Linked DNA regions of Homo sapiens: region 2 is reported to be linked to region 1. Evidence: microRNA targets listed by miRTarBase, many of them from high-throughput screens and not tested one by one. Region 1 holds a microRNA gene; the other region holds the end of a gene's coding sequence.
What was found. The annotated mature microRNA hsa-miR-548g-5p reads UGCAAAAGUAAUUGCAGUUUUUG and lies in region 1 at 1,806-1,828, opposite strand. An mRNA with a match to its seed (bases 2 to 7 or 8) in the 3' UTR can be bound and repressed. Matches are read on the target gene's strand: a 7mer-m8 pairs with bases 2 to 8, a 7mer-A1 pairs with bases 2 to 7 and ends in A, and an 8mer does both.

Region 2: miRTarBase lists KPNA6 as a target of hsa-miR-548g-5p. Seed matches in the 3' UTR shown: 8mer at 855-862.

What each region holds. Positions count from the first base shown.
Region 1 is chrX:38,022,144-38,027,218 of GRCh38, forward strand. MIR548AJ2 (microRNA 548aj-2) reads right to left here and starts at 1,843; the gene lies at 1,752-1,843. All of the region lies in intron 1 of SYTL5 (synaptotagmin like 5), which reads left to right.
Region 2 is chr1:32,170,608-32,175,680 of GRCh38, forward strand. KPNA6 (karyopherin subunit alpha 6) reads left to right here. Exons shown (of 14, transcript NM_012316.5): 14 at 100-5,073. The coding sequence ends at 287. Among named protein-coding and RNA genes, the nearest start is that of TXLNA, 6.5 kb to the right of the region's middle.

The DNA.
Region 1 (5,075 bases):
TTATTCTTAATTTCTTTACTTATATAATTGCAAACCAGTAAGTTTACAGACCTGCACTGGTTTGCAACCCAAACTTTGAATAAAGCTGTATTAGCCTATCCCAACTGATACAGTGTTACTGTAAGAGAAGTATGAAAATGTATTGGATAGATACTATGAGTTTCCAATTGCTGCTGTAGCCAATCACCACAAACATATTGTCTTAAAACAATACAATGTATTATCTTACAGTTCTGAAGGTTAAAAGTCCAAAATGAGTCTTGGGAGACTAAAATCATGGTGTTAGCAGGGTTGCATTTCTTCTGGAGCCTGCAGGAGAATCTGTTTCCTTGTCTTTTCCAGCTTCTAGAGGCCATCTGCATTCCTTGGCTTGTGGCTGTTCCTCCAACTTCAAAGCCCATCACCTCAGCCTCTGCTTATGTCGTCACACCTGCTTTTCTGACTTTAACTCTACTACCTCCCTCTTGTAAGGATCATTGTGATTACATTGGGATCACCCATCTAATCCAGGCTAATCTCTTTATCTCAAGACCTTTCACGTAATCACATCTGCAAAGTTTTGCCATCTAAGGTAACATATTCACAGGTTCTGGGGATAAGGATGTGGACTTCTCTGGGAGCCATTATTCAGTTTATCATAGATAGCTAAGCTAAACTAGGAGTCAGCCATTTAAGTAGATCCCTGTGGATACTTAGGAATTAGGAGATGGAGAAATGGGGGAAGTATCCCAGGCAGAGTCTTACAAATAGGAAGATCTGGAGGTGAGGAAGATTATGGCTTTTTTAGAGGAATGAACTTTTGAGTGTGGTTAGAGGATAGATACGAGAGAGAGAGATCAGCAAGGGACAAATCATGAAGGGTTTTGTAAACCATATTAAACAACTTGAACTCTTAAAGAGCAAAGGGAAGACATCAAAGGGTATTCAGTATAAAAGCAACAATTATCAATTTGTATTTTGGAATTGCATATAGAAGAGCCAGATTGGAGGCACAAAACTATGATGCTGATGAACCACGGTGGTGTCACCTAATTCACAGCATGTCTGAAACCCAAATCCATTATTTCCCACAAAAGCCAGCACATTCTCCATCTTCCCTATTGTTTTCTTCTAGGATTCAATTCTTAACATTATTTTTAGCCTCTTTCTTTCTTTGGCTTCTTACTCTAGTCAGTCACCACACCTTATTGGTTCTTGAAAATTTTTTAAAGACATAATATATGGTTACATGAATACATCCAAAATAATAAACAATATGGAAATAAGTCCCTTTTCATCCCTTCTCTGACCCCTAACAATCCAACTCTCATCTTCATATGCAACCTGATTCATTATCAATATGTATTATCCTGTGCCTTTTATTATGCATTTACATTTATTATGTACATGCATATATCTACTGCATTGTTTTAAAAGCATTTGCATTAAAAAGCATAATTATCTTGTCTATTTTCAGCTCGCAATATAACTTAGATATTTTCCATGTCAATATATTTATTTTAAATGCCTCATTTTAAAATTGAACATCGGTATTGCTCTCTTTTCCAGCTTCGAGAGCTTCTAACTCTAATAGATTCTAACAGTTTCTAACTTTAGACTATTACAAACTTTATCTTATAACTTATTTTTCAAATCTTTCTCTTTTGAAATTTTTATTAAGGCTTTCTCTTAGCCAGCATTTTTAAAGGTAGAAGTAGTCTTCTCTTTAAAAATATCAAAATACACAATGCCAAGAAAATAAACAGTGATCTTAAATATTAGGTTGGTGTAAAAGTAATTGCAGTTTTTACCATTAAAAGTAATAGCAAAAACTGCAATTACTTTTGCACCAACCTAATACCTTTTTCCAAACTGAGAGCTCTGTGAAAATTCACAGTGGACATTAAAGACTCTGAGAAGTTCTGTAGAAAAAAAAATATTTAACTTGGTTTAACTCTACATATCCAAATTTTTTGTTGAACTACATCACTTGATATGGTTTGGCTGTGTCCCCACCCTAATCTCTTGAATTGTAGCTCCCACAATCCCCACGTGTTGTGGGAGGGACCTGGTGGGAGGTAATTGAATCATGGAATCATGGGGACGGGTTTTCCCATACTGTTCTGGTGATAGTGAATAAGTCTCACGAGATATGATGGTTTAATAAAGGGCAGTTACCCTGCACTCGCTCTTTTGCCTGCCACCATGTAAGACGTGCCTTTGTTCCTCCTTTGCCTTCCACCATGATTGTGAGGACCCCCACCCCAGCCATATGGAAATGTGAGTCCATTAAAGCTCTTTTTTTTTAAATAAATTACCCAGTTTCAGGTATTTCTTCATAGCAGTATGAAAATGGACTAATACAGCACTGTTAACAATTCCATATAATATCTAATAACATCTCATGGGATACTGTTGTTCCATGAAGTCACTGTGTGGCCTCAAATGTAGTGGTTACAAGCAGGGTCCCTGAAACCAAACTATTCTGAATTACTTACCAGTTGACCTTGGGCAAGTTACTTAACATCTCTGTGCCTCAGTTTTCTCATCTATAAAATAGGAATAATAGCAATTTGTTTCATTAGGAAGTCATAAGGATTAGTTGAATAAGTGTTAGTGGTTATTATTTGGAGCATTCTGAGGATACTGCTCTTGAAGTATTGGTATGAAGTTGATGGCACTGTTAGCCTCTCTACTGTTATTTGAAGAATCCATATCATTGTGAAATTAAAAAAAAAATCTTGACTATGGCACTCCCATATAATGTACCACACAGAATTGCCCGTGTGAGAAGAAACAGCTCTGTTGCAAAGAAATTCCTGTAATTCCATAGCATCTCTCTTTGAGTCATTCAGTTTGGGGTTCGTTGTAAAAGTACTACTTTTTTCTCTATCCACAGCATGACAGTTCTTACCTTTTGACAGTCTTGTGGACTGCTGTGCTTGTGGTAATCCAATCACAGCTGCTTTGCAGGATGACTGCTCCTCTATTTGAAAGGCATCCTCAAGGGTATTTTGCGTATGTGATTTAGCTTGTATTCTAAGCATCCTAAACATCTCTGTAAGTGTGCTGAAAATTCATCTAATTTGTATTGTCACATGGTGACAGTCAAACAGGAAATTAACTTTATTTCTATTAATTTCATCCTAAGAGCACTCTCAGAAACATTCTATATTTAAAGCTGCATTTCAAGTACACAGTAATGAGATATATTCAGATATACCCTTTCCTTTGATTCAAATATCGGCCCCTATTATTTTTAGGTGTGTGTTACTCAAAATAGATGCTTTTTAAACTTATGTCCCTTTGTGATGCTATGAGAGTATTTGACTACCACATCTTTTTGATAATCAGAAGTTAATGACTTGTCCAAAGTTATCTATGCTGAAAGGCAATAGAATGACATACAAAGCATCTTGCCATCTTTCTAAACAGCTTAGCATAGTTCAACAAAGTTACTGGCCACAGAGGGAAAAATCTACATCTATATTTAAAGAGAGAGATCTGTTTAAGTTAGGAATTGAACAATAAAAGAAAAATGAATTTCACCCTCCTAATCTGACTAGTGTTTACTAGCCCCATTTAACTAAAAGAATGAGGATCAATTACTCATTTTTTTCTCTACTTGATTAAAATGTGTAATGGGTAAGGGATTCTCCAGGTGAGGTATGAAATCGCTGAAAAGAGACACACAGTGATGATATATCCTCAGGTGAAGTCATTGCAGTCCAGATGCTGGTCTTCAGTGCAAAGGCTGAAAAATTTGATTTGGTTAGCACACAGCAAACAGATCTGACATGGGTTCAAACTAAACCAAATATGGAGAACTCCATAGACAGGACCAGAACATTCACTCCTGAAGGGAGAGCTCTATGGGAAGCCAACTTATAATCAAAAGTGTCTGGAAGGAAGTGAGATTGAGCAAGGGTAATTAGCTGTATGATTTGAGTGATTCGTGGCATGAAAATTTCTCAGAATGAGGCTCCATCACCTAGCATGGAACATGCGCTACAGGGAACAAACAACTATTTTCATTTTCATTCCCTTTCTCTAGTTGGAGTCTGGATGGGCACTGACATCACCTAGCTCCTTAGATCTTCCTTGTCTATGCCTTGGTTCACTGTCTCCTTTTCTTCACCCTGTATTTCTCCGGAAGGACTGCGTTATCATCAACTGCATTCTATCTTACTAAATTTATAGTCATAGTTCAGTGCTGCCTTCTGGAGAAAACATCCTGATTTTCTTGATAGAGTTTTGCCTACTTCTGATCTCCTTAGCCAACTGTTACTGGAAAGGGGTCCCGATCCAGATCCCAAGAGTGGGTTCCTGGATCTCACACAAGAAGGAATTGGGGGTGAGTCCATAGAGTAAAGTGAAAACAAGTTTATTAAGAAAGTAAAGGAATAAAAGAATGGCTACTCCATAGGCCGAGCAGCCCCAAGGGCTGTTGGTTGTCCATTTTTATGCTTATTTCTTGATTATATGCTAAACAAGGGGTGGATTATTCATGCCTCCCCTTTTTAGATCATACAGGGTAACTTTCTAATGTTGCCATGGCATCTGTAAACTGTCATGGCACTGGTGGGAGTGTAGCAATGAGGATGACCAGAGGTCACTCTTGTCACCATCTTGGTTTTGCAGCTTCTTCACTGCAGTTTTATCAACAAGGTCTTTATGACCTGTACCTTGTGCTGACCTCCTGTCTCATCCTGTGACTTAGAATACTTAACCCTCTGGGAATGCAGCCCAGTAGGTTTCAGCCTCATTTTACCCAGCTCCTATTTAAGATGGCATTGCTCTGGTTCAAACACCTCTGACATTTTCCCCTTCCCTTTTACAAGAGAATCCTTAATCCTAAGGGTTGCAGAGGAATGAAGATCCATCTTTTGTAACTTCTTCATGCTGAACAGGGGTGATGATATTCCTGCCTAACTATTAGGGTCTCTTGTATTCAGAGTAGAGAGGAGCTCAGTTGGAAAGTGTCATTACAGTGAGGGCCATTCATAACTCTTGAGTTCTGACAAAAGGTGATATCTGGAAGATTAGTAAGTGTTCAATTTAAGAAAATTTTCAGTAAACTTATTTTGCATTATTAC
Region 2 (5,073 bases), not on the chromosome of region 1:
AAGCACTAACATACCTCAGGGAAGGAAAAATAGGTAAATGTTTCACCTGCCCATAGAAAAGCACTCACACTTCCCTCTCCTTCCTTCTTACTACTGTAGGCTTGGATAAAATTGAGTTTCTCCAGAGCCACGAGAACCAGGAGATCTACCAGAAGGCCTTCGACCTCATTGAGCACTACTTTGGTGTAGAAGACGATGATAGCAGCCTGGCTCCCCAAGTCGATGAAACGCAACAGCAGTTCATCTTCCAGCAGCCTGAGGCCCCCATGGAGGGCTTCCAGCTATAATATCTGCCTCCAGGGAGGGGAGGGGATGGGAAGCACCACCAGCCAGCGGAAGAGCAGCCCTCTGGTGGGCGGGAAACCAGTGTCCCCACCATCAGCCACCACACACCTCTGCTGCCCTGGAGACTGTGCTCTTGACCTGCTCCGCCCCCTTCCCTGGAGGGAGCACCCTCTGGACAGACAGAACCATCTGAGGCTCACCTTTGGGTTTTGTGACAAGAAGGGGACGTGTTGGGTTTTTCTTCCTTACACTATATTTTGGCTGCACACATGTCTTTAACCCAGGAGCCCAGGGGTAGACAAAGGAGGACTAAGGTAATCAATTTGCACCTTTTTTTATTTTTATTTTTTTTCTTTTTTTCTTCAGTGGTGACTTCCTTCCCTTTATCTTTTTTCATTCTTCCCGGTCCTCTGCCCTGATCTGTGTAACTCTTATCTTGGGTACTTGAGCAGACGGTATATTCCAGAGGTGGGAGGTGGGAGGGGAAGGGAGAAATCCAAAACAAAGTGTTCTTGCTCTGACAGAATATTAATCTTGTACGCTTGGATTGAGTTATTTAATTTTTTTTTCTTTTGCACATTTTTCTTGTATTAAGATTGCTCTTCCCAAGAGCCACAAGTTCCTGGTTTTAGTAAACCCAGCTGCCTGCATTGCCTGGGACTAGAGGCTGGGGAGGCTACCATGAAACAAAGGTCCCTCCCTCCCTCTGACTCTTTGCCCAGACCTCTTTAGTTTGGGGGATCCTCCTCACTCTCCTGAAGTGTCTCAAGTATACCAGTGGGAGTGCAGGGGAGGAGCACAGGCCTTCAGATGGGGCTTCCCACGTGTAGCTACTGATCCCATATTTCCTACTCACCTTCCAAATGGTGCGACCCAACTTCATTTGTTTACTTGAAAATTCCCCCTCGAGGTTGAGAGAACCTCTGAGGTGGCTGTATTTTCTCCTAAGCTTGAGATAGGGGGCTGTGGTCCTTCCTTTCTCCTGAGGAGAAAGTCCTTGCTCTGGTGACCTGTAAGTTGCAGAGGAGGGTGGAGTGAGAGTGTCATGTATTGGGATAGTCAGGGATCCCTGCCTTTGGCCTTTCTTCTTCTTCTTCTTCCTCTTCCATAGTTGGATCATGTATATTTTACTTCTAAAGGAGAGAATGTCAAAAAGTTCTGTATTTTTTTATATTCTATATATTAGGTAGGTCAATCTTAATTGGTCTCAAGAGGAAGAACTGTCTGTCATTTCGGTAAGTAGGATACTGTGAGGAAGACCAAAAAGAGATATGGATGCTTCCTCGCTCAGGAGGCCTGAGCTTGGTCCTTTTCCTCTCTGCTTGGATTCTGGACCACCACCTGGGACCAACCTTCAGCTCTGGAACCTTCATAAAGCAGGTCAGCGTGGCCTGATTGTCCCAGGACCTGAAGGGAGCAAGGATGGCCTCAGGGCCTGGTGAAGTCTGCTACTCTGTCCTTACTGCTGAACATCCTGCTTGTATCAGGAAACTCAGAAGCAGTTTGCCTTGTCAAATTCAATCTCAATGGCCATTGTCCACATAACTGATCACCCATGGCTGCCTCTCCTATTATCTATTATCACTGAAACTTAGTAGCCTGCTTTTTTTTTTTTTTTTTTTAGAGCTATTGCGTATCTTCCCTGTTTGGGATCCTTGTACCTGGTTTGGGTTTTCCCTTCCTTGTGACAATTATAATCCAGATGCCTCTTCTTTCTGTTTGAATTACGGTAGTGCATTGCCTTAGTGGCTTGCCTGTGCCTCTGGGTGGATTACATATGATAGTAAAGCCCACCTGTTTGGATGGGAGTAGAGGAAGTTGGTGTAGACCAGCTGTGGAGCTGAAGGCACAGTCTGCCCCACCCCCACCTCCCCACTGTGGTTAGTCAGAGGCATCCTGCTCCAAGCTCTGCTTTTCCTTCCTCTGAAACAATGCCATTCTTGCTTCTATTGCTACACATCTCCTTCTGGCTCAGGTGAAATCCATGCCCTTCTGCTTATAGACCTAAAGTTCAGGTACTTATTATTGGCCATTGATCTTGAATTTGCCCTCTCCTAGTGCTGCAGTCCCACTTCAAAGCCATTTTCTGAGGAGGATGGTTTAGGTCTGGCAATTGTCCTTGAAAAATCCCACCCATGTTGTACCACCTTGGTGAGTCATATGCCACTCATCAGCTTGGGAATGATGGCTGCCAACTCCCAATCTCCCAGGAAGGCAGGGGGCAGAATCTTTTTTTCACTTGGCCTGCTACCTCCATTAAAAAACCATTCTCTTACAGTTTAAAAAAAAAAAAAAAAAAAAAGCCTTCCCCTACCCAACCTCCGCCCATTGTTCTCTTCCAAAGGGCAATTTAGTAGGATCTACTTTGTACATCTCAAGTAAGAGTTAAGTCCCTGATACAGGGACCAGTTTCTTAGTGTAAGACATACACATCCTGCTTGTCCAGCTGTTCCTCCAAAATCTACTTTGGCTTCAGCTCCGGGTCCTGTACCAGATGGAAAATGTTTTTGGTGATCTGGCTGCTGCTTAAAGCCAGTTTTCCCTAAGAACTCCAAAGGCTAAAGTCTACTAGGGGCAGAGTGTGAGGATAGATTTCTAATCAGAGAAAAGTGGCCTCCAGGAGCTTTCATTTATGTCTTCTCCAGACCAGGTTTTCCTGTTATCTTCCTTTAATCCCCTTTCAACCAACAGGTGAAGTTCTTCCAGCCCACAGAGGTAGTAATATCATCTTTTCTATCTCCTCCTCTCCTTTGGCCATGTAATGAAGCAAAATATTATTTATTTAGCCCAGGCTTGAGAGCCACTGTTTGTGGACAGTCTTCATCTAGATTCCATACCCTGGCCTAGGCGAGGTAAGGCTCTCTGGTTATTGCCAGGATGGAGCCCCTCTACCCCAGTCTGCTGTAGGGAATACCCTAATTAGTTGAGGCATGCTTTTGGAATCCTGGCATGTTGGCATATGGCTGGTCTATCCTTTTTAAGATCTCTGGTTGGGGGTATCTGGATATGGATTAGGAGGGACAAGGAGCCTTTTTCTTGGCTAATGTTTTCCAATACTTTTTTGAATGGTGCCAGCCCCTCCAGGCATCCCACCCCCAAATCATCATCTTTAGTACTAACAGGGTGTCTGGTCTTAGAAGCCTCCCTTCAGATCCCAGCTGACCCTGGTGACTGCCTGGCCTTGATGTTGGCTGCAGCCTTCTGATAGAACCACATGGATTCCACCCACAGCTGGCCAGGCTTGTTACATGGGTCAGGGAATACAAATGGCCCCCCCCCAGGGAGCAGGTGTTGGCCTCAGTTTTCAGGGACCCTTGGTGTTGCTCCTTACCTAGAGCCCATTAATCTACCCCATCAACTCTCTGCCATGAAAGCCATCTTCCAGGAGCCCTGTTTTTTGGAGCTGAACTGCACAGATTATAGCTGCTATTGTACTTAAATAAGGGAGAGGAAAAGAAGGTTCTCAGGCACAGACTTTCTATTTTTCTCAAGCCAAACCAGTTTAAAATGTCTAGCAGAATGAACTGTATTTCCATTTCTTCATGTCTACCTGCCTTCCCCCCACACCCTAAAGTTGTACTTGTTTCTAGCAAACTAGAAGGAAAAGATAGGAAAGCCTGGCACTACTAACCTCACCTCTCATACACCTCTTTGAAGGCCCCAGCTCTTTTGTTCAGGCCTCTCTTCTCCCCTAGACTCACTCAGCTTGGTATCCATCATCTTGAGCATTCTTCAGTAGATTCATCTAGGGTTCAGATTCCAGACTCTCAGCTGAAGACAGGGAGCCAATTTCCCCCAGGTCCCTGCAGGTAATCCAGGGACCCCATAGGGAGAACAGGCTGACTGGGGCATTAGGAATGTTTGTACCTCTCTGCTTCCCTGGCAGCCTGGGGAAGGGTGCAGGGCTCAGTGCGCTAAACCATGGTAAACATCTTCAATAGAACTACCCTAGAATTTAGTGAGTGTGAGACTGAGATATTGCTCAGAATAAATTTATTCCATAGCCATTTAGGATTGCATGTTCTGGACCAACCTTGTCCAGTATGTTTTCTGTTTGAGCTTTTTCATTCTTTTGTTAAGCCAACAAGTTGAGAATTTGGCCCTGCTGGGATCCATGTAGTGGGCACTAGCTGCTCTTTGGCCAAGGCCTTCATAAATGATTCAGTCTCTCATTATCTGTCCTCTAGCCCCACACCCTGATTTAGACCGTGGCAAAGGAAGAACTTGAGGTCAAGACCAACCAAATCTGTGAATTAAAGCTGTTATTTTTTTCTCTGCAAGGGCGCTTTGCTTCAGGTCTGGGCTATGTGCAGAACCTAAGCAGGCTGTGAGAGTTAGAAGAGGCAGTATTACATGTTAGGCCCAGAACACCATGGGAAAAGGTTTATGTAGTGTATCTTAGTGGCCTGCCTAGCTGCCTCTGGGCCAGGCTGACTTCTGATGTCCACATTAGCTCGTACCTGAACCCTGTTGCTGAATGCCAGCCCTGTTCTCCTGTAACTATTATATACGCCATGGCCTGGGGGGCATTGAAGGAAGTAAGCTCTCAGAGATCCTAACACTGGCTGGGAACCTCTGACTCAGAGCATGTCTTTAAAGAGTCCACATCTGGCCAGGCGCGGTGGCACATGCCTGTAATCCCAGCACTTTGGGAGGCCGAGGCGGGTGGATCACGAGGTCAGGAGTTTGAGACCAGCCTGGCAACATAGTGAAACCCCATCTCTAATAAAAATACAAAAAATTAGCTGGGCGTGGTGGCAGGCGCCTGTAATCCCAGCTACTTGGGAG